4 linked regions of the Homo sapiens genome follow. The protein of the gene in region 1 interacts with the protein of each later gene in a pairwise test. Each region holds a gene or a part of one and is shown on either strand. Other genes may lie near its edges. The genes, in order: CALM3, SCN2A, CAMK2D and IQCB1.

What was found.
Region 2: the proteins of CALM3 (region 1) and SCN2A interact in binary tests that used the Homo sapiens proteins (3 or more experiments, as listed by UniProt).
Region 3: the proteins of CALM3 (region 1) and CAMK2D interact in binary tests that used the Homo sapiens proteins (3 or more experiments, as listed by UniProt).
Region 4: the proteins of CALM3 (region 1) and IQCB1 interact in binary tests that used the Homo sapiens proteins (3 or more experiments, as listed by UniProt).

What each region holds. Positions count from the first base shown.
Region 1 is NC_000019.10:46,603,709-46,611,760, forward strand, and holds the end of CALM3 (calmodulin-3), read left to right. Parts: intron 1-2,118; coding exon 2,119-2,149; intron 2,150-4,115; exon of another isoform or gene 4,116-4,488; coding exon 4,489-4,632; exon of another isoform or gene 4,633-4,773; coding exon 4,774-4,880; exon of another isoform or gene 4,881-5,137; coding exon 5,138-5,273; exon of another isoform or gene 5,274-5,297; intron 5,298-5,389; exon of another isoform or gene 5,390-5,416; coding exon 5,417-5,445; 3' UTR 5,446-7,074; downstream 7,075-8,052. UniProt on the Homo sapiens protein: Calmodulin acts as part of a calcium signal transduction pathway by mediating the control of a large number of enzymes, ion channels, aquaporins and other proteins through calcium-binding. Calcium-binding is required for the activation of calmodulin.
Region 2 is NC_000002.12:165,234,627-165,242,695, reverse strand, and holds the start of SCN2A (sodium channel protein type 2 subunit alpha), read right to left. Parts: upstream 3,283-8,069; 5' UTR 3,056-3,282; intron 1,637-3,055; exon of another isoform or gene 1,582-1,636; intron 1-1,581. UniProt on the Homo sapiens protein: Mediates the voltage-dependent sodium ion permeability of excitable membranes.
Region 3 is NC_000004.12:113,498,909-113,507,007, reverse strand, and holds part of CAMK2D (calcium/calmodulin-dependent protein kinase type II subunit delta), read left to right. Parts: intron 1-1,972; coding exon 1,973-2,032; intron 2,033-4,030; coding exon 4,031-4,072; intron 4,073-6,496; coding exon 6,497-6,545; intron 6,546-8,099. UniProt on the Homo sapiens protein: Calcium/calmodulin-dependent protein kinase involved in the regulation of Ca(2+) homeostatis and excitation-contraction coupling (ECC) in heart by targeting ion channels, transporters and accessory proteins involved in Ca(2+) influx into the myocyte, Ca(2+) release from the sarcoplasmic reticulum (SR), SR Ca(2+) uptake and Na(+) and K(+) channel transport.
Region 4 is NC_000003.12:121,789,484-121,797,582, reverse strand, and holds part of IQCB1 (IQ calmodulin-binding motif-containing protein 1), read left to right. Parts: intron 1-355; coding exon 356-465; intron 466-2,016; coding exon 2,017-2,126; intron 2,127-7,367; coding exon 7,368-7,510; intron 7,511-8,099. UniProt on the Homo sapiens protein: Involved in ciliogenesis. The function in an early step in cilia formation depends on its association with CEP290/NPHP6.

The sequences.
Region 1 (8,052 bases):
CTGGGCGGCAACCTTGCTTGAGATCTGTACCTTTCCTTGACCAAGCAGGGAAGTGGGTCTCCAACATGGGAGGGAGAGCATCTGACAGGCCCTCCATGCAGAGCCACGCCTATTTGCAGCAACCCTGTGACAGAACTGAACATGGCAGTGCCTCATCTGCATCTTCCAGTCTTTTGGTGGAGACTGGCAAACGGTGGCCTTCAGAGCCGCTCGGGGCAGTCTGCAGCCTGTCACAGCCTCCTCGCCCCCACCCCCAGCCCCTTACAGTGCTGCCCAAAGGTCCGGGGAGCTGGACTTCTTGCAGGGCGGAACAGTGGGCTGGGAAGGCCCTGACCTGGCTCGCTTTTTCCATTCTAGGCCAGGGGAAAGAATGAAAAGCAGATGGGATGGCAGCCACCTCCCCACACTGCTGCCCTCCTCTCTGTTCTTTCCCTGACCCTCCCTGGGCATTGCCTGGTCTCGGTAACCAGAAGCCCATCCTCCCTTCTCACTTTCCCTAAGCCTCTTCCTCAGGTGTCAGGACCTAAGGGATGGCTCCAGGCTTTTTTGTCCATGGTGGGAGGTGGGGGGCAGGTGGATCAAGAGGCTCATGGGCCTGGGGCTACCAGGTTGGCATTTAGAAGCCCAACCACCCTGTCTTTTTTGAAGGCAATGCAGAAGAATCTTCATTTGGCCTCCCCACCTCCCCTTTACACTTTGGACTTTTCCAGAATGTGCATGTGTGCCGTTTTCTCCCTTCCTCTTTCCCCCTCCCTAAGCCCTCTCCCCTCTGTGATCATCATTTTGATTACCCCTCCCATTCTGCCTATTTGGGGCTTGCAAGTTCTTCTTCCGTTAGGTTTTTTTTTTTTTTTTCTAACTTTTTTAGATCAGTGATTGTTAATATTTGGGACGGGGATGGGGGTAGGGGAGGCAGGCAGTGGTTTGTTCCTAGCTTCTGGAACCTCTCCGTAGAATACTGCAAATTCACATAATAGTCTGCTTCTATTTCTGAGGCTCTCAGACTCGAGACTAGAACATGCTATAGACTTGGAGCCCCTTTCCCTGATTGTGAAAGGAAGGGGAACAGACCCACCATGGTCCCGGGATGGTGGTGCCTTCTTCACAGCATCAACAAAAACCAGGGAAAATGTGTCTTTTGGCTGCTAAAGCTAAATGTTGGGATTCAGCCTCCCCAACCCCCCAGCCCCGCTCCTGCCCCATAGGATCACTATGCCTGGCTGATGCCCAGCACACCAGTGCAGGAGAAGCCAGTCCCCGCATCTCCTCCCCACCCCCAAACCCCGCATGCAGCAAGGGCTGCCTGCCACCCACTGGCCAGTCCCCAGAGTGCCCAAGCTGGAAAGGGTTAAAAACTGCAGTGCAAGCCAGCTTCAGTCCTCTGCTGCTGCCCGCTGCAGCCCTCTCCCTGACGTTTGTCCCTTCTGCCCAAAAGAAACAAAACAGAATGGCCCTGTGCCCTCACTGTGCGCAGGGGGTGGAGCGCCTGCCTCCAGCCTGACCAGAGTTCTTTAGGTGCTTGAGCAACTCGGGCCGCCGGTTAGGAGAATTTTTGCCACTTGGGTGGACTCTGCCTGAGCCAACCGCCTCCAAATAGGTGACACAGAAACTAGCAGAGATAGCCCCAGACATCGTCCCTCTGCCCTACCCAAGGACTGGCCTGCTTCAGTTTGGAGCCTTCTAGAGCTTCTTGATGAGGCCTCCAGGGCAATCGTTCCCTTCACTCGGCCTCTGGGGCTCTCACTGATGAGATGCAAACCTGTGCCAGGCCTCACCAGCGCTGCTGGTTTGGGGCTGGGGCAGGCTTTTCTCCCGCCCCTGTGGCTCCCACATGCTGAGTTGAGATTGGAAGCCCGTGGGTCTGGGCAGCTTCATCGGGCCGTGCGTCCAGCAGGCCTGAGTGTCCAGCCCACCCTGGTACCCAGCTTTCTGAATCACCAGACTTTATCATCAGGCGCTGGCTCTGCCTCAGACCCTGACTCTGGCATGCTCCTCCCTGGCCCGGCGGGAATGGCACGTGGAGCTGGCCTCACTGGGGCCGAGGGTCTGGGCTGAGTGAGGAAGATGCGTCCGTGCTGTCCGGCCTGGTGACTGACTTTCCCCTTCATGCTTTTACAGGCTGACCAGCTGACTGAGGAGCAGATTGCAGGTGAGTCTGCTATCCCCCTCATCTTAGCTCAGGAAAGCCTCCACATCCCCAGCCAAATCTTAGCCACTGAGGAGTGACATCTGATGGGTGAACCTGTGTATCCCTTGTGTCACCTAACACTATGCCTTGTGCCTAGAATGCTGATAAATGTGTGTAAGAGCACACCAGTGCCCCAATGACACGAAGCCCCATGGCCCTGAGACAGGCCTTTACCAGACACCAAAGGCTGTGTTCCTCTCCTGGGCCTGGGTCATCTAGGGGCTTGATATCAGTGGCTGCAGGACGAGCCCAACTCTCTCTCCCAGCTTCAGCCAGGTTGGCTTAGAAGGTGAGCTCCCTGCCTCCCTGTGGGGCCTGCAGAGCTCCTGTCCCACTTTAGGAGCCGCCCAGGAGCTGGCTCGTCACTCCCACCTCTGCGCTTGCCTGCGCTTTGCACTTCCTTTCGCATGTGCCTGCGCCTGCCTGTTCTGCTGGCGGAAGTGCCTCCCCAGTGCTTTGCATGGGCAGCTCCTTCCCGTCCCTTAGCTCAGATGTCCCCTCGGGGAGGCCTTCCCTGACCCCCATCTCAAGTACACAGCCTTCCTTTACTCTCCTTCACATCACTTTATTTTCTTCATAACCTTTCTCGCTGTCTGAAATTATTTTCTTATGTCTTCACCTGTTGTATCTCCTGTTACTAGATGTGAGTTCCATTGAGTTTGGGACTTGGTTTTGTTGGTCCCTGCTATAGCCTTAATGCCTGCCTAGAACGTAGTAGGTCCTCCGCAAACTTTTGCTGGCTAAACAAACATCTCTCTCTCAGCAAGCTAGAAGAAATCCCTGGATCCCATCTAATTCATTTTTCTAACCCCTCCAAAACCCCAGAAGGGTCAGCTACAGGAACTATTGTGTAATTACAGATCCGTGCCTGCCTACCCGCCCATACTGAGCTGCCCGAGGACAGAGAGCAACTCTTGGTTTATCTCCATAGCCAGGGGCCAGCACACAGTAGACCAGAGTAGCGATCCAGAGAATGGGCCTCTGCTCCCCACCAGCTACCCAGCCCCCAGCTCTGCTGTCAGGTTCAACCGGCTGTGTAACAAGTACTAAAGGCCCAGCTTCTGCGGTGGGAGGCAGGAACGGACTTGCCTTCTCTCCTTTCTCCCCTCAACCCGCATCACAGAGTCACCTTTGCAGCTTCAAAATTTTGGCCCTGGGTGGCTATGGAGACCCCTGAGGAAAGCCAGAAGATGGCCTGGTTTAGTGATCATGAGCTCGGGGTGCCCCATGACCCACTCACTACCTGCCCTCCCCAAGAACAACAAGGCCTCAGCACAGGGAGGTGCCAGCCTCCCCAAAGAGACTCTTGCCATGTCCCCAGGGCCCAGAGGCTCAGGGCCACAGCTTCCCAGCTGTGCATGTCCCTCCCAATGCACCTGCCACCCATCTCCCAACTCTGGCCTTGTGCAACATAAACGGTCTGCTTTTCACCCTGTCCCCATTAGCAAACTGTCCACCGCCTCACCCCAGCCCACACCCTCTGGGAATAGGCTGCCGGACATCTGTTTTTGGAGGGCTTGGGGGTAGAGGAGCACCAGGTGCCAAAATGGGCCCAGTGGGAGGGCAAGAGCCATGTGCTTTTCTCCCTGCCCCTGATGCGGCCCCAGCTGTGGCCTTCCCACTCAGCACTGCTAGCTCCTCATCCTCCTGGCTTGGCAGCCGTCCCCTCGCTTTCCATCCCCCCATCAACCCCACGCACTGTCCGTCAGCCATGTTCTGCTGCCGACCACCCCCACGCTCACCACACGCAGTGGCTCAGCTCCTTTGGAAGCTGGTAGCACCCACGGCAAGGAACAGGGCTGCCAGTCAGAAGGGAGTGGATGCCTGCATTTCCTCTTCAGGCCGGCCAGAGGCATTCTGCAGCCTCCCCTCCTCGTCCCAGCCAGCCAACCCTGGCTAACACACTCAGACAAAGAATCCTTTCGGCTCTCATTCACTCCATGACTTTGGTTCATTTCATCATTTCAAGGGAGAAGTCAAAGCCAGGGACCAAACAGAAATGTAGAATCATCTAAGGACAGCTGTCAGACCATTTTCCCCACTGTCTTCACTGGCTGGCCAGAAAAATAGCTTCACCTAGCACAGTGTTGATGTTCAATAACTGTTGAATGAAGGTTGGAAGGGCTTTGCCCTGAGCACTGAGGAGAGAGAGCTGGTTGCGTGGGACTTGAAGTCTGTCTCAGTTTCTTTAGGTGGGACTGATGCCCTTGGCCTTCCTCCAGGGAAGGCATCCAGCATCCAGAGGTAAGGATTCTCCTGTGGACCTTGTGACCTCTGACTCCTCCCCCTTCTTCCCCCAGAGTTCAAGGAGGCCTTCTCCCTCTTTGACAAGGATGGAGATGGCACTATCACCACCAAGGAGTTGGGGACAGTGATGAGATCCCTGGGACAGAACCCCACTGAAGCAGAGCTGCAGGATATGATCAATGAGGTGGATGCAGATGGTGAGCCCCACAGAGCGCGTGGGCAGCCCTGCTCCTGGTCACCCCGAGTGACTGCAGGGAGCCTCTCTCAGGGTGATGGATGAGCCCGTGTCTCTCAGGGCCCAGGCCAAGAGCATTCTCCATCCTTTCCCCACCTTCCAGGGAACGGGACCATTGACTTCCCGGAGTTCCTGACCATGATGGCCAGAAAGATGAAGGACACAGACAGTGAGGAGGAGATCCGAGAGGCGTTCCGTGTCTTTGACAAGGTAAGCAGCCCTCTCCAGGGGCGGCTCTGAGACTGACGCCAGCCTTCAGGCAGACAGGCGGAACTGGAGCCACGGAGCTACCACTTCCAGGAGGTCCGGGTCCCGGTGCCAGCCTCATTGCCAACCTGCTCTGCCACCTCAGGCAGCCTCCCTCACTGTGCTCACTGCTGAGGGATGGTGATGACAGCCACCCCTCTCACTGCCTCTCTCCCCACCGGGAGAAGTGCCCAGTGAAAGGCTTTATCCCCAACCCCCAGGATGGGAATGGCTACATCAGCGCCGCAGAGCTGCGTCACGTAATGACGAACCTGGGGGAGAAGCTGACCGATGAGGAGGTGGATGAGATGATCAGGGAGGCTGACATCGATGGAGATGGCCAGGTCAATTATGAAGGTGAGTCAAGGCCAGGCTTGATCTCTGGAACAAGAAGAGAATCGCAGCTTCAGGAACAAGCCCCCAGATCCCTCTTGTTGGGGAGGGCCGCTCGCCACTTAGCCTGCCCGCCTGACCTCCTCTCTCTCTGCTTCACTCCACAGAGTTTGTACAGATGATGACTGCAAAGTGAAGGCCCCCCGGGCAGCTGGCGATGCCCGTTCTCTTGATCTCTCTCTTCTCGCGCGCGCACTCTCTCTTCAACACTCCCCTGCGTACCCCGGTTCTAGCAAACACCAATTGATTGACTGAGAATCTGATAAAGCAACAAAAGATTTGTCCCAAGCTGCATGATTGCTCTTTCTCCTTCTTCCCTGAGTCTCTCTCCATGCCCCTCATCTCTTCCTTTTGCCCTCGCCTCTTCCATCCATGTCTTCCAAGGCCTGATGCATTCATAAGTTGAAGCCCTCCCCAGATCCCCTTGGGGAGCCTCTGCCCTCCTCCAGCCCGGATGGCTCTCCTCCATTTTGGTTTGTTTCCTCTTGTTTGTCATCTTATTTTGGGTGCTGGGGTGGCTGCCAGCCCTGTCCCGGGACCTGCTGGGAGGGACAAGAGGCCCTCCCCCAGGCAGAAGAGCATGCCCTTTGCCGTTGCATGCAACCAGCCCTGTGATTCCACGTGCAGATCCCAGCAGCCTGTTGGGGCAGGGGTGCCAAGAGAGGCATTCCAGAAGGACTGAGGGGGCGTTGAGGAATTGTGGCGTTGACTGGATGTGGCCCAGGAGGGGGTCGAGGGGGCCAACTCACAGAAGGGGACTGACAGTGGGCAACACTCACATCCCACTGGCTGCTGTTCTGAAACCATCTGATTGGCTTTCTGAGGTTTGGCTGGGTGGGGACTGCTCATTTGGCCACTCTGCAAATTGGACTTGCCCGCGTTCCTGAAGCGCTCTCGAGCTGTTCTGTAAATACCTGGTGCTAACATCCCATGCCGCTCCCTCCTCACGATGCACCCACCGCCCTGAGGGCCCGTCCTAGGAATGGATGTGGGGATGGTCGCTTTGTAATGTGCTGGTTCTCTTTTTTTTTCTTTCCCCTCTATGGCCCTTAAGACTTTCATTTTGTTCAGAACCATGCTGGGCTAGCTAAAGGGTGGGGAGAGGGAAGATGGGCCCCACCACGCTCTCAAGAGAACGCACCTGCAATAAAACAGTCTTGTCGGCCAGCTGCCCAGGGGACGGCAGCTACAGCAGCCTCTGCGTCCTGGTCCGCCAGCACCTCCCGCTTCTCCGTGGTGACTTGGCGCCGCTTCCTCACATCTGTGCTCCGTGCCCTCTTCCCTGCCTCTTCCCTCGCCCACCTGCCTGCCCCCATACTCCCCCAGCGGAGAGCATGATCCGTGCCCTTGCTTCTGACTTTCGCCTCTGGGACAAGTAAGTCAATGTGGGCAGTTCAGTCGTCTGGGTTTTTTCCCCTTTTCTGTTCATTTCATCTGGCTCCCCCCACCACCTCCCCACCCCACCCCCCACCCCCTGCTTCCCCTCACTGCCCAGGTCGATCAAGTGGCTTTTCCTGGGACCTGCCCAGCTTTGAGAATCTCTTCTCATCCACCCTCTGGCACCCAGCCTCTGAGGGAAGGAGGGATGGGGCATAGTGGGAGACCCAGCCAAGAGCTGAGGGTAAGGGCAGGTAGGCGTGAGGCTGTGGACATTTTCGGAATGTTTTGGTTTTGTTTTTTTTAAACCGGGCAATATTGTGTTCAGTTCAAGCTGTGAAGAAAAATATATATCAATGTTTTCCAATAAAATACAGTGACTACCTGATTTGGCTCCTCTCCTCCTGTCTCAGTTTCTGGCCTGCCCCCCTCCAACACACATACACACCAACCCCAGCACTGACTCCTTTGGCCCAGAGGTGGAAGAGCCTCTCCTCAAAGCTGGCTCTGAAGCTGTGTCCAGTCAGTGCAGCCCAGTGGACGCCTCTGAACCACAGTTCTGATCCCAGCTAGATCGCAGGGTCATCAACGGCAGGGTCCTGTCCTAGAGATAGTCGCACAAATGGACTGAAAGGCGGGGACTGAGAAGGCTCCTCTGAGGCAGGCCCATCATGCCATGGGAGCACACAGAGAAGGGGTCAGCCCAGTCAGGTGGCAGGACTGAGCTGAGACCTACCTGAAAGATGGGCAGTCCCCTAGCCGGGTAGGGGAAGGACGGAAGGGCATTCCAGTTCGGGGGGACGACATGTATGGAAGCCCTGAGGCAAGAGAAGCCCAGACATCAAGGAACTGAAGGAAATCCAGCGAGACTGGGTGAGAGCCCCGAGCAGCTTGGAGCCCAGCCGGGTGAAGAGAGGAAGGCAGGGGCAGGCCCTGCAGTGGGTGAGCCTCTTGATGCTTTGGGGAGAGGGGTGGCATTCACTGCTTTAGTCTCACAGGCAGCCAAAACATGCCAAGTTTGGATCTACAGTGGTGAGAAAGGCATGGTCCTGAGCTCACAGGGAGGGCACGGGACTCAGTGTTGGTTTGAAGATCTGAAACAAAAAGCCCAAAACAATTGCAAACCACACAAGGCAGAGTACAAACCACTATGCGGTCACAGCCAAATTACAAACCACAGAAAGCTCAACTTTCTCGTGGCAAGTGGGGATGTGAGGAAGAAGCCGCCTCAACAGCGCCCAGTGGCACATTCCTGTAATCCTCCTACTTTGAGAGGCTGAGGCAGGAGGATTGCTTGATGCCAAGAGTTTGAGACCAGCCTGGGCAACATAGCAAGACCCTCCCATTCCAGTGGGGCTATAGTGGA
Region 2 (8,069 bases), on another chromosome or scaffold:
TAATCTGCACTAAAGTTAAATTTCCCTCAACAGTACCTTCTTTCTCCAGGTATAAAATGTTATCTCTCCTACCTTTCCCTGGCAAACTTCTTAAAACTTAAATATACTCCCCAGATTTCTCATGTCCAATTTAGTCCTCAGAGCCCCTGTCTCTGCCATTCAACTAAACCTCTTCTCTTAAAATTAATTTATGACCTAATAATGATAACTAAATCCATCATCTTTACTCTATCCTCTTATGAACCAACCCCTTTATGGGTTTTCTATTGTTTCTGATCCCTATTTTGATATTCAATTTACCTGCTTGGCCTCCTATGATATTGTTATTCCGTCAACTTCTCACATTATTTTCACACAATTTAATAATAGTTTTCTACACTTTTTTACTCTCCTAATCTTAAGATTATGCCCCCAGTCATCTTCACTTCTCTTTTGTTCCCCATTAATGTTTAATTATGTATGACCTAATTTTGTCCCACAACTGCATGCAGATCTATACATTCAGCCTTAACCACTAATCTGATACATGGATATAACATGTTCAGCTCCTTATAAAACACCCCAGTGTATGAGTATGTGTCAGTATGTCAAATGCATAACACCAAAAGCCAAATTCATTATCCTTACTTTTACTGCCCCAGGGGAAAAAAAATAACAACTGCAACAACAACACCGACAACAAAAGCTTCAAACAGATTGGGTTATTTACCTTTCTCTACAGTTTCCCTATACGATGCCTATAGTTCTCCATTTTCTTGTATTTACTTGCCTCACCTATGTACCTGGAATAAGCAACTTTCTGTTTTTCTTTATTTATATCCAACTCACTCTTAAAGATCTAATTTAACTGTCACATCCTCCTAAAATCTTTTCCTCTGAGCCCCCCATGGACAGAAATTAACATTATTGTTTTGTTCTGAATCCCAGGATGTAACATGGTGCCTGGCACAAGATAGGTGCTGATATTCCTGTCCCATTCACTTTCTCATCTTTCTTCATTCCTTATTTTGAGATATAGTGGTATCTGCACATGTATATTTGCATGTTAACCTCCCTGAGGTAAACTCCTTGACTAATTATTTCTTTATCTCTACCATGGACACTTGGTTGGTACGTGGTATTCCACAAATATATGTAGACATGACACATTTTAATCCCTTTCTTTTCTCAAGATATTGAAGAAGTAGGGTAAAGCCTGTGCCTAGTAAGTGAACAAAGGAGGAAAGGCTTGGACATGAGATGATATTCTTATAGTTGTCAATAGATTAACCTATATGTACAATCTTTTCTATTAGGTAGGAGGGAAAGCCATGTGGCCATCCACATCATTCATGAGCATAGGGTAGAAGAGTATACACCACCTAATAATGAAAAAGGCATACTAAGAAACAGAGTTTCCATAGTTGTCATTCAGTTTTCTTGGATGCTTTGACAAGAAACCTAAGAAAATTGAGCACTGCATATAATATGCCATTGAGCAACAGTATACTGAAAGAAACTCTATTTTACAGAATATAACCAAACACACACACACATGCACACACACACACACACACACACGCACAGTGAATATCATCATACCTGGTCTATGCCATCCTGATATGTTCACACTAGAGGTGAATTGTGTTACTGCTATGGAAGATGTGGAACTGTCAATCACTGTTCTAGCCTTGCCTTATTGTAATTTAGTACGTGACTCTGGGAAATCCACCTTATCTCTCAATTACAATTGCTTTTCTTTAAATGATAATGGGGATAAATGGTTAAATATCTGTAATTCTAAAAATCTCCATGTATATGGAGCCATGTAGAACTACAAACTCTATAGATTCCACACATTTAAAAAACATGTTTTTTTCATGGTTTGTCCAAACCATTTTATAAAATCATTCCCCATAGCTTTCACAACCTCTGACATGGCAAAACTACCTCTTTACAGGAAAACAATGACTGAGATAAAAACATCCTGATGCACCTCCACCGCCTGCCACCTCCACCATCACACACACACACACACACACACACACACACACACAGCTCTTTCCACAGGAGAAAGAAGTGAGGCATTTAAAAACAATCTTACAAAACTATTTTTAAAATATTTGTAAAATCTCTTTAAATTTCTCTAAATGAAAATCAGTGGTTTTTAAATATAGGATTTCTATATGTCTTTATTCCTGTTATTCTAATAATAATCAAGCAAGGATTTAAGGGAAATCACGAGAAGCAGCAGAGAGAAGCAAGGCTGTTGCATGCAACTTCCACCTCCTGAGTCATTCCACTCTTTAACACAGATAATGTCACATGACCTAAAATAATTTAAAATGTGAGCACCTTCTATAATATCAACTATTTAAAATGGCCACGGTTCTATTATCCCAAATCCAATAAAATACAGAAAAAATCAATTTTCATGGCAATTAATTTGTGTTCAGCATACTCCTCACATCCATACTGGGGGAGGAGGGAGGGTCTATAGTCTCATTCCAAGTCTATTAAACACATTACATAAATCTTGATTCATGTGGGAGAAATGACTTACGTATTATTTCTAAGAGGTAAAAATAAAGACATAAACAATCTGTACCATCATAGCCAGCAGAAATCGTTCAAAAGGCCTTTGGACTCAGAATATTGGCTTGCCTCTGAGGCTGCAATCAGAAGGCTCAGCCCTGAGCTTTGGCAGAGCCACTGCCATGTTAATCTGCTTCATTATATCTCTACAATTTGTTCACTGCATTAAGGAGCAGTATTTCCCTTGTGAAAGGAAAACCCATCCTTCACTTTGAAAGCTTTACCTTTAAAAGGTAAACAAATACAGCCAGAGACAGAGACCAACAGCTAGAAAGCCAAAGAAATAATAAAACACGGTATGTCATAGTCAGAGCTCATTTCAGCCTAGGAAGATTTTAAATTGCACAACAGCTAGAATTAGAGCTTTTGAATCTCTTAGATCTGAATACAAGCTAACAAAGCACACATCTTATATTAAATGTCATTCTTAACATAGATAACAATCCGTGGATAAGTCAAAAATAGAATCATGCTGGCTTACCTGAAATAAAGAAAAATGTAAATCATAACACAGAATCCACGTATGTGTTGAATATAACAGTCTCCAATGCAATTCTTCAGAATTTTTACTGGAGTAGAAAGTAAAATCTCACATGTGCTCTATCCTCATTAAAGAAGAAAAAAACAAGAAAGGATGACCACAGCATCCTCCCTCCTTTGCCTTAGCTTTCTGTTCTGACAGTCATTCGATGGTACCCAATGTCTGTTAGAAAACAGCATGCTAAATTAGAAAAATAAATAAATAAAGGCAGCATCTTACATGACAGCTCCATCTCCTGGTCAAAAGTGGAACCATCTTAATTCACGTTCCTTTGGCTATGTAGCAGTCAGCACATAAAATTAAATGATGTACAGCCCATAATTCCACTCTATTTGAAATCAACTACTTTAATTAACTGTAATTTAAACATTTAAGAAGAATTATAGTATGAATTTTTAGAATTATAATTCTATTTTGGGGATTCAAATTTCTTTACATTATGTTTAAACTAAATGGAAGCTTTTCCCATCATTGAAAACTTAAGATTTATTTAACTTTATATACCATCTGAAAAAGTAATATGTATCTCCTATAAAACAATTTTAGATGTCAAGCTTATTGATAATGAACATCACATCTCTTTGTGGAGAAGTATAAGTTTTTGTCACTAGAGAAGTTAACACATAACACTTGTGTTGCTATTGTTTGGAGGAATGTTGAAAGGTTAAAGATAAGGCAGGAAAATTAAATGACTTAAAGGCAAACTTGAAAAATCTTTAGTTAATCTAATCTAACTACAAAAATACAGACGACAAGTTACATGCAACATGAAATTTGATAATTGTAGTAGTATACTATAGTGTGTAGTTACATCTTCTTAGAGAGATAAGAGAAAATTAAATTGTCAAAAGAATCCATTTGGTAAATGACACCATTTATAGAATCAAAGTTTTACTGAGCATATGATGTTCTCAATATATGTTTGTTTAATTAATTATTCTTCTTATGAACAGTTGTGAAGGCCAGGATCATTTTTTTAAAATTTGAAGTAAAAGGATAGGCATTTTTTTTCTCCCACTTTTTTACAACACCATTTTAATTTGGGGCCAAATCGATCTTTAATTTCCTATTGCAGTAACGCTGTCCATGGTGCTGAGAACCAATTTTAGAACTCATGGTGAGTTCTAGGTCTTAAACGGGTCTGAAATACTGTCTTTGTCAGATTTGATATAAAATTTACCATTAAAAGTCCCCAGATCAGCCAGAATAATTGATAGTATCTAATATAAAAATAGTTAAGTAATTTTTTTATCCACAAAATATGTATATACACATGTCCATCAGAAGCCAAAATGCTGATAAATACATTTAATAAAATACATGATTGCAAGCTACACTTTCTTTGGATTCATAATATTTTATTTTCTGTGTGCTAAAGTTATACTGAATAGATTGCTTTAACATAAGGTTGTTCCCACACTATTAAATAGACGAGGAAACCAAAGCCCACTCTTCAGTAACTTATCCAGTATTAATAAGCAAGTCAGAAGAACAAACCCAGTTTCTTAAATTTTACCTTACTTCCATTTCTACAACATTATTAAGATGTATTAGTTTGGTTATGAAAATATATTTTTAACACTGAACAAATAAATAATTAAAGTGACTTGGTAGATCAAATTATTTTAATGTATACACTCAACTATTTCATCTCACAAGTTTCCTGCACTATCATAAGATACATAAGCTCTCAGGGCACATAATTATGATAATTTTGCCAAATTAATTTGCAATTTCAACAAATTACTCCTGATGGCCAAGAAGCTTAAACCTGTAAGATTAAAGCCTAAGATGCCACAAATATGAAATATTATTGATACTTTATTTTTAAAATCACGGGAATTTTACAATAATTTATATAAAATTTAAATGTTTTTCTTAACACAGTAATCATTTTTCCCCATAGTCTTGAGGGTAAATTTTATCCTTAGGGAAGATGTGACTAACTGATCCTGGGATTTTGTGTACCTCTAGGCACGCCACCTCATGCCCCCAGGGATACAATATCCCAGTTTCAAGACCATAGGGTTATATGACACAGAAACTGGAGCAATCCTTTTCAACCCTAAATCATATCACATACTCTTCTTCTCAAAACTTTTTAGTAGCTACCCATCTCCTTGTGAATAGTCTATGCCTTCCCCAGTGTTCACAATGCTCACAATCTAGACTCCTTTACTTCTCTGATGTTATTCTTGCCCTCACTCACTCTACTTTAGCCATTTTATCTTCTTTCTCATTACTCAAACATGGCAGGTATGTCCATTCCTTAGGAGGCGTCCACCTTTTAATCTCTTTGCCTGGAAATCTCTTACATGGGCTCCGTATGGCTCACTTCCCTCATTCTTGTCACAGCTCACAGCTGCCTTCTTACTGAGACTGGCCTTGACCCTCAATACCACACACTATCCCCTCCTCTGGTTTTTCCCTTTAGTATTTAGCTGACATACTAAATATTTTGTCTATTGTCTGCCTCCTCCAAGAAAAATGTAAATTCCATGAAGGCAGAGATGTTTGCCTGTTTTGATCACTTCCATAAACGTGGTTCACAGAACAGTACCTGAAATATAAGACCCACCCAAATAATGAATACATGTCCTAGACATAGAAAATTCATACATTTTTATTAATGCACCATAGGAATGCTATTATTTCTGTGTGTGGATTCCTATGTTCTTATTAATACATACGTCAGAGAGTGTGAAATCAATGAAGCAAATGGCATGTTCTTTGAGTAAACTATTTAAACTATGTTTAATTCATATACTTAAGCAGAAAACAGAACATATAGTGAATATTCCATAAATATGTTAGGTTAATGATGCCAGTGTTGAAATTAGACCACTGTGGTCTTGAATTGTTTTTAATGGAGTTCTGACAAAATTTTGGTAAAATATTATTGAACAACTCTTATGTTAGCACTTTTTTTTCCAGGATAAACAAACTTTGAGGTAACTATTGTAATTTTATTTTTATGGAAAATGTTTAATCTCATCTAGAAAATTTTAGCTGTTTTAAAATAAGTTGTAAAAATAGCAACATGTCACATGGTAGACATGTGTGCGTGTGTATACAAATATATATATACATATATACACACAGACACACAAGTACATACACACACTAAATCTTTATGAAATCAACTTCAGTTAGGCATTCATTTCGCTAGTAACAACAAACCAATGCCACATAATTTCTCAATAACATGTCTCTTGGGCATTGCTTTAATGATAAAATCCACACCTTTATTTTGGCAGCTTGATTTTCAAAATCATTTTAATTTATAGAGATAAAAGTAAGTAAGTCTTATTTTACCTCCATTAAGTTGTGCATATTGACTGTTATTTAATTTTTTTCTACCATTTATCATTCACCCAGACTTTTAAATATCATCCATCTGATTCAGAAAATAAAAGACTAAGTTCCTAGTTTATACCTAATATTTGTTTACATTTTTCTTGCCTCACTTCTTCTTATTTAAAATATCTGCATTGGAGAAAAGCAAATGAACAGACATTTTTAAATGGCAATTTCATTTGTACAGTTTTAGTCACCTTAAAATATGCTAACCTCTTTTAAATTATTGGTCACCAACATCAAGACAGTTTTAAAAAGTTGAACTCCATATCTAATGTTTTTCCTGCACTATTATCATTAGAGAATCAAGGACCTGTAAGCCAAAATGGGCATATTTTTATGCCATGTTCAAAGACTGCTAATACTGATGAGGAGGACAGCTTATTACACTAGTTCCAATTAGTATGAATTGTTGACATTTAATAGTATGTTATCAAAAGATGAAGAAAAGGAAAAGAAAAATTGGGCCATCAAAAGGACATAATTTCCATAAACAAAGTCTGACAAACAGAATAATTCCCATAATTCCTTGAAAGACGAGGTGTTACAAATAATGTTATAAATATATAACATTTATTGAGCACTTTTTATGTGCCAAGCAATGTGCTAAGTACTGTACATAAATTATCTCATTATTCCCAGCAACAGGTCTGTGAAGTAGATTTTTATCTTTTCCCTCTTAGAGATGAGAAAAATAAAGCCAAAGTCCCTCAGCTAGTAAACGATGTCTTGACCTCCAACTCAGACCTCTGTTCTCAATGCTTATGTTCTATTTGAGTTCTACTTAAGACACAGGAGATGTAAACTATGAAGAAGTGATTCCGTTGACCTTTGGAATTTATGTGCTTTTTGTCCTCAGCTCCAGTTGTTCAACAGTTGTGTAAGCCAAGGGTAAAACAAGAGTGGAAAAGAAGGAAGGTCTTTAGGAGTACCTCCCTTCAGTGTGGTATTTCAGAGCAGGTGATGGATTTGCAATGGATGCAAGGATTGACAGAAGAAGATAAACAGAAGGAACTAGAGTTATTAAGGAAAATAAATTGTCAAGAAATTAATGAGTGAAAGAACAAGGCAGAGAGGTGAAAGAGAAGTGCAGGACCCATAGAGCTCTGCCAGAGACCCTTCTCTTCCCCGAAGATGGCTGTCTGAAAGAGAGCAGCATTCCATGATCCCCTGAGCAACAAGGAGTTCTCATCTACAAGGCTCACATGATCCTGTTACCAACACCAGAAATACACTAATGCTAGCTGGTAGCACCTTGCTGAGGGTAACTGAAATACACAAAGGTTGCCCTGACATTTCTCATCAGTAGGTCTACCTTTATTGTGGAGTAAATAACTCAATATAGCATGATGAAGAAACAGGTAAATTGATATTCTCTGAACCCCATACTAAAATGTGGCACCAGATGTCCACAAAAATATCCCTGAAAGACGAAAGACTGATTGTAAACTATAAAGTCATTTCAGTGTTCTTACGGCAGCCATTGTTTAGTGTTTAATTTTTCTAAGCTTATCATTGTCATTATTGTTAATAATAGTAATTATCAGCCAAAAAAAAACTGCATTTGGTAAATTCCTAAATTTTTGTTCTGACAATT
Region 3 (8,099 bases), on another chromosome or scaffold:
TAACAATAAAGAATGGCTCACCCAGACAGAATGGCCTTCATCTGGAAGAGATGATGGTGTGTGTATGCTGTGTATCTGTGTGTGAATGTGTGTAGGTGTGTGTGTGTGGGGGGGGGAACATGTGCACTTGTACAGATAAGTTTGTGTGCACAGGTGTGCAAGTGGGACATTTTCACTAAAATAAAGCAGTTCTTGGCAACCACATCCTAGAAAAAAGTCAAGTATCATATCCCAAAATAGAAATAAAAGTATCTCAGAATATTTCTTTCATTTGCATTCACTGATAAAAACTAAATATAGCATATTAAATACATGTGGTGCTTTAACCATAAGTGCCCCTGTTCATTTGACAGGAAGCCGGCTATGTTTTGCCTAGCATGTTTCCCGAATAGGAAATTATTCGTGTGTGCATCCCTCCCCTTTTCTCACGTACCCTGTACTAACATAAATACTGAATTTTGATCCCTCTTTAATAGACTTTTTACCTCTTATCTCTTTGGCTCTTGCACAAATATCATGTTAAATTCTGTGCACTTTGATTTAAAGGAAAAAAAAGGTTTTAACTATCTGCAGAATATAGATTGATGACAACATTTATAGAATTTTCCAGTAAAGGAAAGTTTAGAAGTTTTCTCATCCTTTTCTGTGGGTCAAGCAGCACAGTGTCACAACTTATTGTAAAAATAACGATACCAGTAATCAGACAAAAGGGAATGAAAAGAAAGGAAAAATATTACATATTTAAATTAATTTATGTTACTTTCTATCTTCCTCTCAATACTAGTTTTGACAGGATATATAGTTATCAGATATAGACTTCCAGAAAACCCGAACAATTAAACTGGTGTCACCACTTGAAATGCTCATTTGATACTCATTTATTTTATATAGTATATGTTTCTCTTTACATCATTATCTATATTTATATTAAAATCATGGAGGTATATTCCTTTAGAAAATAATAAATAAAATACCTAGATAATATAGTATAAGAAAATGAACGTTACCTTACATTTTTGTTTGAGAACCGTAATGTAAGTTGTCATGCATGAGTTTAAAAGAATGTTGATTGATTATTATTTTTCAGTCCTTGATTCTTAGTGCCCCGACTCAGTTGTAGTTTCTGATTGCCACTTGTCTACAAAGAGTCTTCTCTGTGGACCGTTAGAACACTTATTGACCCTCTGAGTTGCTTTTACCACGCAGCTTCCACAGTGGTAATGATATATTCTTTAAAGTCAAATCCAGTTATGTTAAAGCAAGGGAATGATATTACCAAATATATTCTGCAGTGATAGCAGTAGCACATTGACAGAAAATGTAGTATTTTCCTCTTACACAACTGTAAAAATTAAAGTCCTTTTACATTCAACATAAAAAGTTTGATTTCCCCACTAATAATTGAAGATGTAATTTTTAGAGGAGATCTACACTTGTCATTTTTAAAAGCTATTGTGACACCAGCGTTTTCTCAGAAGATCTAAATTTTCATTGGATAATTTAATTGCTCCTAAGCAAAGTAATGCTGGATCCCCAGAGAAAGATGTATGTGTGTGTGTGACTTCAGGCTCAAGAATAAAATGAGGGAAGAAAGAAATATATTTATAACTGTGAACAATTGGAAGCTTGGAAACAGAATCCAACTTGAACAGTATGAGAATGGTTATATTAATTTCATACTCTGAAACCTGATTGGAGCTCCACTGAAGCAGCTCTTTGTTTGCTAAGGTGGCATAGCAACAGCAGACACGTCTGTTTTCTCATTGCACCATCACGGACATGGTCCAGCCTGTGTGTGACCATCGGAGACTAGCGATCATCATTCCTGTCAGTCATCACCATGTCTTTCACGTTCATCTTCAGTGGCTCTTTATCTTCATGTCTACATCTCTATGTAGACATGCTGCATCTAGAGACATTGGCTACCAAGGGGTTTAAGGCATCTCTGTTTCTATTTTCTGCATACCCACAGATAAACAACAAAGCCAACGTGGTAACCAGCCCCAAAGAAAATATTCCTACCCCAGCGCTGGTATACCTGGACTCTTTGTAACCCTTCTTAAGTTCTTTACATTTTTTTTTTTTTGTGGTTTCTCTCATTTGCTTTCACTATATAGATACATATATATAAATATTTTATTTCGTTGGGTGTTGGGTTTTGTTTTTTTTTTTTTTTGCTTTCTATGATATGACCAAGTTCATTTCTTTTGGTTTTTTTTGGTTAAGTTAGTTGTCAAGCAGTGTGTTCTAACATGAGATTATCTCATTTCGTTGTTGAACATTGTACTGATAGCTGTGGTCTCTGTAGTTGGAATTACTGCATGCTGCATTCAAAATACAGCGCTTTGGTTGCTCTTAGCTCTTCTGATGATGATAGTTCTAGATTATGCAAACAATGGTTTCTTCTTTTCATGATGCAAATGCTTACATCAAGGAGAGCTAATGGGATTGTTGCTAGACAACATGAAAGTAGACCTTATTCAGAGTTCTCGTTTCCCTCTTATTAAAACACAACAGGGCTTTGTAAGACTTCACTTTCTGAGATAAAGAGGCACTGGATAATTTAGAGCTTTCTGTTTATTATGTTTTAAATTAAATTTTCACTGTTTCACTTTAATCCAAAGAATGAAACTGCAAAGAATAGAGGTTTGAATTATCAGTGGAAACCAGTTATGTCTATCTCAATCAAATCCACACAATTAACGACTAAATTAGTCTAACACTTTGAGATGGTATTATGTTAAAATTCAGAATTTGAATACTGTCATTCAGTGCTGAGTTCCATAACATTTTCCCTAAACTGTTTCATATTTTGATTTATGATTTTCAGAAATGTTTTTCAATTATTTGCTCTTCTCATACTGTTATTTTAAATAAATTTAAAAATGTTAAGGAATCATTTCACTTGAGTTAACCATGAGGCTCCATTTAAAAACATTTAAAAGGAGGACACATCAAAATAACAGGTTATCTACTAGTAAAAAACAATGTTGATCACAGCTGTAGCCAAGGGAAAGGGAGAATGGAAGCAGGAGATATGTCTCTCAATATTACAGCAGTGTAAACTGTAGTGGTGGGGGAGTGTCCATGATTGAGAACTCCCAGTGGGTTGCAGTACCTCCCCATTGCCAAGATATCACACAATGAAAGTGCCAAGCATGTCACTGATGTATGCATATTGAATCTTTTTTTACATCAGTTATTTGAATGTTATTCTCCACTTGGGAATATTTCTTTGCTTTCTGATAGAAAACAATAGAAAACCCATACTTTCTTCATAAAAAAGCATGACTTTATAGCCAGATATCCTGTATATATAGTCCATAAAGTAGAAGTTTTTTAGATATGAATTAATACAGGATTTAATAGCAGTATGCCTCAAATTATAGTGATTACATGATTAGTTCTAGATTAGTAGATTAGTTCTAGTTCATGATTAGTCCCTTAAACTTTTTAAATGTTCCTTAAAATTTTTTTATGGTCTTTTGAAATGGATTCTTTAGTATAGTCTTTTTTTAAGTGTTGTCCAATGGCTCTAGATTTTATAAGGGTATTCAGTTACGTATTAATTAATGACACCATAATCGAGTTTCAAACCAATATAACTGAAAAAATATCTTCTCTGAGAATTTGAAATCATCTCAGAGTTTTAGCTCCAGTGTCCTTGGCCAGTTCTCTATGGGACAGACGTTCACAGGCCACTCATTAAAGAAGAAAGGAAAGCATAGGATTAAGTGAAACAGTGAGTGCCTCTTCAGATCTCTAAATATCAAAGCCTTGTTTGAATGCTGATCAAGAATAAGGTCTTTTGCATGCTGCTTCTGGGTAGGGAGGTTCCTATCTCATGGCCTCGCCAGGGAGATCTTTCATCAGAGATATTGTCAGCTGCAACTCTGACAGCAGTTAACATCGCTTTAGCTCTTGTCACTATTTCATTTTGTCAGCTGGCTCACTCTGCTCTGTCCTTCACACTAGAAAGAATGTACTTACCAATGCGAACTGTTTCTTTCTCTATTTTGTTCTCACTCAGGAGCCCCAAACTACTGTAATCCACAACCCTGATGGAAACAAGGTATTCAGAAAGAATCAACATCATCTTGCTTTAACAAGACTATACATCTCATCAAATATTCAAAAAAATTAATTCGTTATCTAAAAATAGGAAAGAAAATTCTAACCATTTTCTACCACACTTCCTTTTGGGCCTAATTTATCTAGAACTATGGACATACTTCTTGCAAATAAAAATGAATGACATCTTGAAAGAGAAACTAATGTTACCATGAGTCAATAAAAGTCAGGCTAAACATGAATGAAGTCTTTATGTCAAGATGACTGTGTGTCTTAAGCAATTCCATCTGGTCATTTTTTTCCCCATGACTTTGTGCTTTGTACTGTAGATATATTGTGCATGATATTTTAGAATTTCTGGCAATATTCCATTGTCTTCAAAAATATCAACTTGACTTTATAGGTTTTTTTTTTTGTTTAGTGTTACTTTTGAGTTTTATTCTATTCTGTTGTCAGAGTGGTGTTTTTTTTTTTTTTGGTTTTTGGTTTCTTAATTCCTTGTTGGTGATGATGTTGTTATTGTTGTTATTGTTGTTGTTGTTGTTGTTGTTTGGCATGAATTTGAGGTGAATCAAGGAGTTTCACTTTTTGTGAAATATGTTTGTTGTTGAGTAATATATATTCCAGTAACAGGGGTTTAACTACTTAGGTTGAAAGAAGACTAAATGTTTCCTATACATTGTAAATTATTTGTATAGCATGTTAACTAAATAACAGCACTAGCATACATGTCTATAGGATGAAAGACCTTTTCTGAATGTATTCCATGTGTCCAATTTCTTACTTTTCATATATTATTATATCTCTAAGGGAAGAAAAAATACTAAACTTTTCTCAAATATTAGATATAGTCATGCATCTTCTCCATACTCTTATCAATGATGTTTAAGACTTAGAAAGCACATTTTATCTTAAGACTCAGAAAACACATTTCCTCTCTGGTTTAACATTTAATTGATCAATATTAAAACCATTAAAGTAAAAAACATGAAGTGTTATGTTCTTTAATATGAGATTTATTTTATAGTCATGACACTGCAAATGGTCTAGGTCCCGAAAAGCCTTGAGGTAGTCAGGACCATCACATATGAGAACAATTTTTTTAATAGCATTAGCCAATGAAACGCCAAGCATAACAGCTGGAATGGACACTTCAGTAGTTCTAGCTATATCATTTGTAAGAGTTGCTGCATGATATTTCTTGCTGACATGAATTAGTTTAATTTTACAGTGCATGGGTTTACCTTCATTTTCAGCTTACATTTGAATACTAGGTCACATTAAGAAATGCATGAAGATTCCTTTCTTTGGTTTTGTGTGTATGGAGACTCTGGGTACACCTTTAATTAGTTTTTCCCTTGGTTTAAATATTGTATATGATATTTATATAAATTGATCACTTTTTTGAATACTGAATCTCTAAAATGATACTGGCTGGTGTTTACATTATTTTCCAGAATCTGTTTTCCATTACTGAGCTATTGATTGGAAGTTTGTTTCCAGTTATTTTTGGCTCTAGCATTTAATCATTCCAAGTAGAAAACTATGTCTTTCTTATGAATATTGCAAAATTTATTTGCTAGAAAATATTTTACTCATACATTATTAATGAGCACATTTATCACACCATTTTAAGAAATGTATCTTAATTCTGGCAGTTACAGTGTACTTTTAAGTGTGCTTAACAATCTTCCACTTAATTTGTAGTTTTACAAAGAAAGAGCTTTGTCTTTTTATTATGGAGTAGGTTTCTTATCAATAACAGCCAGTTGCTATTTTTGAAAAGAATGAAAAAAGTCTAATTGTCCTTGAAAGTAAATTATTCATTATAATTCCATTGTGCTGAGGACAAACATGAAAATTCTTCTCAAAAGTACTTTCAGCATATCTCAGCTTAACCCCCTTAGCTTCTTCATTAAATGATGCGGTGAAATGCTTTCTCTCCCTATAAAGGTGTAAGGCATACAGGCCTTAACATAGTGCCTGACGCAAAGAAGGTACTCTTTATTGATTAATTAATTGGGAATAGAAATTTTTTCTATTTTAAGTATCAAATTCATTCGGCTAACATATTCAATTGCTTGTAGACACACAGAAAAAGCAAACCTTATAGGGCACTGTAACACAAAACACATCCTTACACAGTTTCTAAAATAAACTGCATACTTCCGCTGCTTCTACAAATCACCTGGATTTATACAGCTTCGGAGATTAGGCAACCAGAGTACTCCGTTTGAAATGTTTGCAGCATCAGACATTTTATTTCTGTTAAAAACCACTTAATGTGTTTGTCCATTTGCATGTCAGCATATGCACATAGCCTGCTGAAGAATTTTGCATGATATGTATGTCACTAGCCAATTTTTAAGGAGGAAATCAAGCTATTCATTGCGTGCAACCTAAAAATGTGTTTTCTTCTCATCAGGAGTCAACTGAGAGTTCAAATACAACAATTGAGGATGAAGATGTGAAAGGTATGATTTAACCAGAAATGGAAAATCCTACCTCAGAGCTTCACATATATATATGAAAAAAAAAGTGCTTCAAATAACTAATAAGTTTAGGAAGTAGGCCTATCCTAAAGCACAAAAATATTTTATTTATGAGTAAAAAATATTTTTATAAGTACATAATTATTTCAACAATATGTTACTTTTGTCATTTTTCCTACATATTCTTTTATATATTTTGAACTGTAGACATGTAGCATATTCTAGCACATTGCAGTAATGACAACTAATAATGAGTTACTAGTTATAGGAACATAACAAATTGTAAATTTGTCAGTCAAAAAGTAATATAAAATGTATACACATTGGGTACATTCATAAAACCTATCTGGAAAACAATTTATATTCAAGGATACAGTATAAAAATAACTTTTTAACTTTTAGTCATCTCAAATAATATCAGTAGAATTTTCTATTTGGCCGCCTTTTTATCCTAGCTTTTTGTGTACATTCCAAAGGTATTCTTGACCTCCATTCACTTTGGTTGCCAAGGTTCTTTTAGCTACATGTATGAGTCATTGGTAGTGTTTCTACAGACATCTTCTCAGTGCCCCTGCACACACATACTGAACACACATTTGCAGTTAGGTCACCTCCTTTGGCCACATCACTGTTTTAGAAGTATTACTTTTGTATCAATTGCATTTGCAGTTTTATGTTGTTTTTGTAATTCATTATATATAACTACAGTCTCTATAGACCAGTTGTCTAGAAGATATTCTGACAAACAGCGGTAACAGTAGGATATTTGAAACAGAAATATTAAAGGAAAAGAAATATAAATTGGGAGCAATGATCCATAAATTAATTAAACCTCATCTGAAAAGATTACTGACCTAATAGTATCACCATAAGCTTTAATTCTAAAGGTAGTGTTAATACAATAAAGTCTTGTAAAGTTGTATTCATATTTTAGAATAAAGGATTTGGAAATTCTCAGGTCAAGGAGACGTGGGGTCAATTTAGGAAATAAAAATGGCTGTAGATCACAACTTGGCAGTCAGCTCTGCTGACTTTTTCCTTTTTGTTTGAATAGAACAGCTGATGCTGTTAAAGTGTACTCTCTATTTATATAACTAAGCACACTGACCTAACTCTGCTAGAGGTAGTCAGTCATTTTTTACAGTGGAAAGGTAGATAGCTGTGTCAAGAATTTTATTTAGTAGGTCTATTCATCTCACTCTTTGCACTTAAGCTAAAATTTGAACTGAAGTAGTTTTATGAATCATTGATACCAGTCATATTAGATAAAAATATTCTTTTTTTTTAGCCAAATAAATAGATATGCCATTTAGCTTTCCCACTGATTCAGGAAGCATTATCTTTGTGTTTTGGATTCATTAGCTCTTTAAGCTAAGCTAAATGTTTCATATGAATTTTCACATTCTTCCCTTGAGCAAGACTAAGAAAACTTGTTCATTGTCCACTGGAGAAACTGAATCTTTAAATAACCAAATAAAATTAGGAGAATACCAGCACCTTACTATATGCAGTTCATCTGCCAAGGAACGTAATCAT
Region 4 (8,099 bases), on another chromosome or scaffold:
CTCCATTTAAGTATTTTTGTTCAAATAAAAAAAATTTATCTCTACTTTTTGATTTACCACAGTGATTCCATCCCACTCCTTTTTTTTTTTTTTTATTAAAGAGATTGTCTAGACAGATTTTTTTTTTTTTATCAGATACCACAATTGAGCACGTAAGAATTCTCAGGAGGGAGGAATATCTTAAAGATTTCAACCTGGAATTCTCTGAGAAAAGGAAAAAGAAAAATCATATGATTAATCTTGTTTTCATTTGTTTTTAAGCCAGACTTTTTAGCTTCAAATTAATACTGATTAGATAACAAAATCATATTTTATTATTATAATAATAGTTGTACCTTTTGCTATTCCATTTCAGGACTCAGACGTCTACTAAGTAAACAGGAAACTGGGACTGAATTCAGTCAAGAACTTAGACAGCTTGTTGGCCTTTTAAGCCCAATGGTCTATCAGGAAGTAGAAGAGCAGGTATTAAGTTACAAAAAAAAAAAATTGCATGATATTTGCTGACTATATTAAACCTTAGTTTTCCTTAAATGTTCCTCACTTTCTTTCTCTTAAGATTTCAAGCAAAATACCCCCAAAACAGAAATATCTTTAAATTTTTTACTCAGGAGGTTGAGGCAGGAGGATTGCTTGAGTCCAGGAATTGGAGACTGCCCTATGATCACACCCATGAGTAGCCACTGCACCCCAGCCTGGTCAAAATAGCAAAACCCCATCTTTAAAATATAATGTTACAAAATTGTATCTCTCCGCCATTCAATCTGCTGGAAAACATAATTTCAATCTCCCATTTACATCTGTTTATAAATACTGCCACATCAGTTTCATTCATCATTTCTCATGAAAGCCCCATCTCTGATGTTTATCTTCTTTTATCTATAAGCTATTTAAACTTTTAAAACTGTTTTTCCAAAAAAAATCTCTAATTGTAGCAAACTGTATTTATGGTTACCTATGGCTACCCTTCTTGTTCTTTGAGATACAACAATAATGCCTTTTCCTTTGTGTAAGAAATGGTATTAATAAAATTATTTAGAAATTTGAGGCAGCAAGTTATTGATTATTTCATCATACTTCCTCTAGCATACTCAAAATGATGGCTCTAAATAGCCCATTCAACAGGAAGAGGCATATTGCTTTCTGATTTCCAGATAAAGACTTAAATATGGAAAACATCTAAAATGACTAAAGATATTTTTTAATTTAAAAGGAAAAGGGGACATTGTATATCCAAAATCCAAAACCAAAAAGACAATAAATTTAAAAATACAAGCAGAAACCATGAAAATAAGTCCAGTAAGGCAGGAGAATGGGTTGGGGGAGGCTGGAAGGAAGAGTGCAGAAGAAGGGAATTCCTTTTTTCTGTATATATGAACCATCGTGAGTTTAGATTAATCTCAAAACTATGCATATGCTCAAATTCATATTGATTAGGTAACAAAATCATAAAACTATATTTTATTATTAATAGTTGTACCCTTTGCCATTCCATTTGAGGACTCAGAAGTCTATTAAGTAAACAGGAGACTGGGACAGAATTCAGTCAAGAACTCAGACAGCTCACTGACCTTTTAAGCCCAATGGTCTATCAGGAGAATAGCATATCAAAAGCTTACAGAACTAAACAGAGATTCGAGCAACCATCCACAATGGTCAACAGAGCTTATAGTTTGAACCTAACTAGGTTGATTGCCTATTAAGTAAAAACATTAACATGTTAGCTCAAAAAAGATTATGAAAGGTCAGGCGGACTATGAAATCTTTGAAAAGGAAATGGAAGTGAGATTATTCTGGGAGAATTTGGAGCTAACTAGACTATATCTTGAGTATGTTCTAGAAATTGCCTTACCAAGCCTAACATACCTCCTTTGGGAGGTAAGGTTTAATATTCTTACCCATCTTGTTAGAGCTAGAGATTAATATTTGCCCTAACCTGATACTTTAAGAGGTAAACTTTTTTTTTTTTTTAAAGACCTTCCTAGAGATATCTCTAAATTATTTTCGGCATTTCAGAAACTACATCAAGCAGCATGCTTGATTCAAGCCTATTGGAAGGGTTTTCAGACAAGAAAGAGATTAAAGAAGCTTCCATCTGCTGTGATTGCTTTGCAGAGGAGTTTCAGGTAAAAAAATTTGGTGAGGGGATTGATGATCATAGAATCTTACTAGAGTACAGTTGAATTGAAATTTAGGTGATTTTTTTTTAATTTCCTAGTATGTTTCTTGTTATCTTTTCATTTTTTTTCCATACGTTTCTGGGTACCAACACTCCAGTAACCAGATGCACTTTCAAAGCAAAGGATGTAAGACAGGAATCTGATGTGTCAAATATGCAATCCTATCCACTTAATAAGATATTTGGGGAGGGGCCAAGCCTACAAAGGGAGCCAATGATAGTTATATTATTAAACCCTCTAAACCAACAGTTATCATAATTTCGTGTGTATAATTATAACAATAACATGTATGCGTATAAGAGTTTAAGTCTGTTAACCTGATTTTCCTGAATAAATATGGCATGGATGGATATCTTCATTGAATTATGATATAGTTCGGCATTTATTTCAAGTAGACTGAAAAGGAAATACTGAAGACATAGCCCACTTTCTGCAATGACTTAACCAATCCAGATCCTCCAAGGTCACAGAACAAGAAAAAATAACTTAGCTTCTAGGTAATTTATGGTAAAGAAGATCTGTTTCAGAGGTGACTTTTTCATGCAGCCTAACTTAAAGCCAAGCTTTAGTTTGCTAAAATGAAACTGGCATTTTACAGAAGTTAATTCTTTAAAGAAAACTGAAACTATTCTTTTAATAACTGCAGATGCATTTCTCAGTTATAAAAACATTTAAAAATAGCTCTGGGGTTCAAAATACTATGTAGTCACAGAGTTGAAGACATTGAAATCACTCTAGCTAACTGTGTCTCTTAGTGGGTATCCTATTAATTGATGAACGTTTTCTTCAGGGAAGAATTAAAGATGGATTTTAAATATTATTGGGCATGAATATTGTTGGTAGCAAAGAAAAGAATTAATTTTTAAATATATATCAAATGCCTAGTATATGATATATGTACTAGGCATTTAACAGATTCGAGTTTGTATCTCACTTGAGCAGCTTACTGGTTGAGTGAACTTGGACAATCCCCCACCTCTCTCAGCCTCAAACTTCCAATCTATAAAATGAGAATAATAGTTTATACACTTGTATGATCAAGATAATGTAAAATTTGAGATAATACAAAGTTTTTAGCATATTATCTGGCACTTAAAAAATGATAGAAGGAAAAATGCATATGGCACATTTTCTGTCCTTGAAAATTTACAAATCTAGGTAAACAAATAGATGCATTAAATAGGTAGTACTAATGAGAAGCAAGTATTATCCATCTATTATTACTCAAAGTTTATTGCCTATCTTACAAGCTGTTTTTTTTTTAAAAGCATTTCTGTGGTTAGATAAATTTGGGAAATATTGAGTACTTTTTGAGTCACAGTGTATATTTTTCTACCCAAAGCATCTGAGGTGCTCTTGGTATTGCCTCTGTGGTGAATTCAGATAGAGTAGGTATTACTTATGGATTCCACCTGCTATCATCCTTAGTTACCTGTCATCTTAAATTTAAGGGTACCCTTATACATGGATTCAGAGCATTAATGTTTAGTCCCACAAGAGTTCCCAAATTTGCTCATATACTCTCTCTTTCAATATTAAAATCTCTATTTAAAAGTAGCCCAGGATTACAGATTTTTTTCTACTTAGAAGTGTATCTATGGAATCTAATATTCCATTATTTTAAAATAGAAATTCCATTGCTTTCTTTATGTAACCAGAAGAGTTATAAATACTTCCATTAAAAAGATAAGCTGTGAAGCAAAAATTATTTAAGTCTCACATTTTGTGTTTGTTGCCTTTCCAGTATTTTTGCATTTGAGGTTCCAGAATATACTGAAATGCGGTTCTAACCTGTTGGATTCTATTTAATTTTTTAATTTTCAGTTTTCTCCAGTTCAGCACCTTCGCTCTTCTATTAGTTGTAACAGTTCATGCAAATGTCTCTTGCTTCCTTTGTAGCTTGGTTTTTTTTCAAAGGTTATTTCTGTCTTTTTGTGCTCAGGACTTATCTCAGTAATTTCCCCTTCCCATGGTTTTGGGAGAGAGACTGCCCACTGGTCACACTTATGGGTCCAGGTTGATTAGTGTTCTTTAGATTCAGCAAGAGGCATTCTTTTATAGTCACGCCCTTGCTAATGCACTTTCATAGTGGTTTCTTTTTTATTTAGTCATTTCTCGTATTCAGAAACTTTGTCTCTTAAGTACTCTTATTCAGCAAGGTTTTCTGAAGCGGCTAACAGCTGCTCTAGTTATCTTAGAGAAACCTCACAATTTACCTACCTCTATCATAGTGCTGATTTTTAAGTGTTTTAATTACATTTGTTGATTTCATCTTGAAACTGAGCTTCTTAAATGCAGATAGCATCTTTTTTCTCTCTCTCCCTCTGAGGCACAGTGTCTTGGCAGCAGAAAATTTGGTCAACTCCCACTTTAATGGTAAAAATTCAGATTGATTAAATGTAAATCATGGAATTTACTTATTTCAGAATATGACATCTGATCAGTCATTTCATCTTCAGAAGTGTAGTACAGATGCCAGGTGGTCCAGTGCCTACTAATTCTTACAAAGAAACCAGTTGGAAGAATAATTGTTTGATTTTTGAGTGATTAGAGAAACTCTGAACAAAATAACTCGATGTTATTTAATAATAAATGGGGGAATTACATTCAAAATCACTTCAGTTCCTAATAAATGTTTTCAGATATGAAAGTAAAACATATGAATCCAATAAGCACACCTGTTTACAATTTAGTCCCTATTTAAATCACCAAATCTCACTTTTTTTTTTTTTTTTTTTTTTGAGACGGAGTCTTGCTCTGTGGCCCAGGCGGGAGTGCAGTGGCGCAATCTCGGCTCACTGCAAGCTCCGCCTCCCGGGTTCACACCATTCTCCTGCCTCAGCCTCCCGAGTAGCTGGGACTACAGGCGCCCGCCATCACGCCCGGCTAATTTTTTTGTTATTTTTTAGTAGAGACGGGGTTTCACCGTGTTAGCCAGGATGGTCTCGATCTCCTGACCTCGTGATCCACCCGCCTCGGCCTCCCAAAGTGCTGGGATTACAAGCGTGAGCCACCGCGCCCGGCCCAAATCTCACTTTTGTCCTGTCTTTCTGGTTTGTACTTTACTTCCACCTTCATGCTCCATAGTCTTTTCATTTTTGCCATATTTGATAGCCTACATGCCTAAATTGTTTCCCAAACCCAGTTTTCTGACAGATTAAATATTCTAGCAGATGCAATTTTAATGATTACTATGTTTTTCATACTAATAGTGTAAAATGGTATTTAAAATATTGATAATGCAGTATTAGACATTATAATCTATAGCCAATTAGAAGTTAGAAACAGAGGTAGTTTTTTGTCGTTGTTGTTGTTTTGAGGCGGAGTCTCACTCTGTCACTCAGGCTAGAGTGCAGTGGCACGATCTTGGCTCACTGCAACCTCCACCTCCCAGGTTCAAGCTCCTGCCTCAGCCTCCCAAGTAGCTGGGACTACAAGTGCACACCATCACACCCAGCTAATTTTTGTATTTTTAGTAGAAATGGGGTTTCGCTATGTTGGCCAGGCTGGTCTCAAACTCCTGACCTCAGGTGATCCACCCACCTTGGCCTCCCAAAGTGCTGGGATTACAGGCGTGAACCACCGCGCCCGGCCACAGAGGTAGTTTTTTAAAAATCAGTTTAAAAGGAGGCTCTGTTTAGGGCCTGCTCTCTTTTACCCTCTATGAATGGGTAAGAGATAAAACATTATTATCTGCATGCTGTATAACCCAGAAGTTTTGAGGTGATGGAGTTCTGTAGAACAGGCAAGTTGCTATCAGCTATTCTTTGGGAAGGGAGAGGCCCTTACCTACTTCATTTCCAGCTTTCACAAAGAGCAAGAGACACTTAGAACTATTCAACTAGCCCTAGATCTTCTCTGGAATCTTTTGACACACATACACTTTTGAGGTCTTCTCTACCCTTGATAATAGGGATAAGAAAGAAGTTTCAAAACAAATAAATTCTCTACTCTGCCCTAAGTAGAAAGCTAGAGAAAATTTAAGTTGTAATTGATGGAAGAATTTATGAGAAACAACCACAGGCACACAAAATTTTATCAAAATCAAAATAAACTATTTTGAGTTGAAAATTCAGTTGAAAAATCATAATAATCCTAACTATACTATAATGAAGTCTGACTATTAAGAGTACAAAGCTATAGCCAAGGTACCACATTTGTTTACAGTTTAATTCTAAGAATACAGTTTAAAAAAAAGATCTAAGAGAAAATGTTCTTGAGGGAGACACATGTCAAATTAAGTCTATAGCGGTAAACTAAGTAGTTTATTCTGCCTTTCTTCTTATCCTCGTTTTCTTTTTCTGTGGGTGTCTGAAAGCATTTTGAGTATATTTACTGTAAACTGACACTTGTAGTCTCCTTACATAGTGATATTGGAAGCAACAAAAACTAGATGGGAATGGCTAAGGAGAAATTTTGGTGAATAAAAGCAGATAATACAGAAATTATAATTATATAAAATGTTTGTGGTCACATGAAAATTTTCATAACCAGTTATGAAAGTAATGTTCAGTTGTCAATAATTGAGAAATAGGCATAAGAAGAAAATAAAGATCAACTGTAATTACATCATGCAGTAAAAATCACTTGAAATTTTAATGTTTTTTATTTTTTTTTTGTGTAAGTAAATGTAAGTTTTTTGACACAATTTTGATGTCATTCTTCTATATCCTGATTTTCCTTTTACCTGACATTAGATCATCAGTATATTCTCATGTCACTAAATATTCTTCGAACATTTTATGTTTTCATAGTTCATAGAATCCCATCCCATCAGGTGAATGAACCAGTATCTGTTTATCCAACTCGCTGTTGTGAGACAAAGTTTGTTTTCAACTTGTTACTGTTGTAATACTGTGGAGAACATTTTTGAACATAAATTTTTACATATATATCTGATTATTTCCTTAAGAAAATTATTTGTAATAGAATTAATTGGTCATCACTTTTAAGGCTTTTTATTTATATATTTCAAATATTTTTCCAGACTTTTAATGCATATATTCAAATATTTCTACAGAAAGATTGCACAACAGCAGCAGATGACAAGCTATTTTATCATACCTTATTAACACTAGAAATTATCTTAAAATTTTTTCTGTTTACATTTATTTGATTACTAGTGAGGTTATGCATTTTTTCATATGATTTATGAAAATTATGTATAACACACTGTTTCCATCACAGATCCAAACGATCAAAGATGTTGCTGGAGATAAATAGGCAGAAGGAAGAAGAGGACCTCAAATTACAATTGCAACTTCAAAGACAGAGAGCCATGAGACTTTCCCGAGAATTGCAGCTGAGTATGCTCGAAATAGTTCATCCAGGTGAGTGGCAGTATCAACTTTATCAATATAAGAATATTTAGGTTATCTTTTAACAAACCAACTTTTCTAGCTACGTGATGATTTTTTTTTAAATTTGGACTTTTGTCCTTTTTCTCTGTTTTTCAGATAAACTTTATTAGATCTTCTGAGTTCAAAAACGGTTACTGTTTTTTCAATTCAGACCTATTAGTTGACGATGAACAATCTCCCCACCAGTTTTTTTTCTTATCCTTCAGATAATTTAGTGAAACATAAAAATGTATGCATAAAGATAGCTGTTAGAGACACAAAGATACTTCTTGAACTGAAACAAGGAGTTGGAATATTATTACATTCTGCCATCAGAGTTTAACTCATTCCTTAGTACAAATGTTGTGACATCTTCTTGCCGCCTTTGACAGACTAAGCTGAAATTAATAAGAAGATGTGGTCTGAGAGGTCTTAGTGGTTTCAATATTATCTTCAAATTATTTTACCTGTCTTCTTGTTATTCAATCCAGGGTCCTTCACTAGCCCTTTATTTCACTTCATCTCCATTAAATATAGATGTTTTCTAGGGTTCCATCCTCACCTTATTCCTGTCATTTTT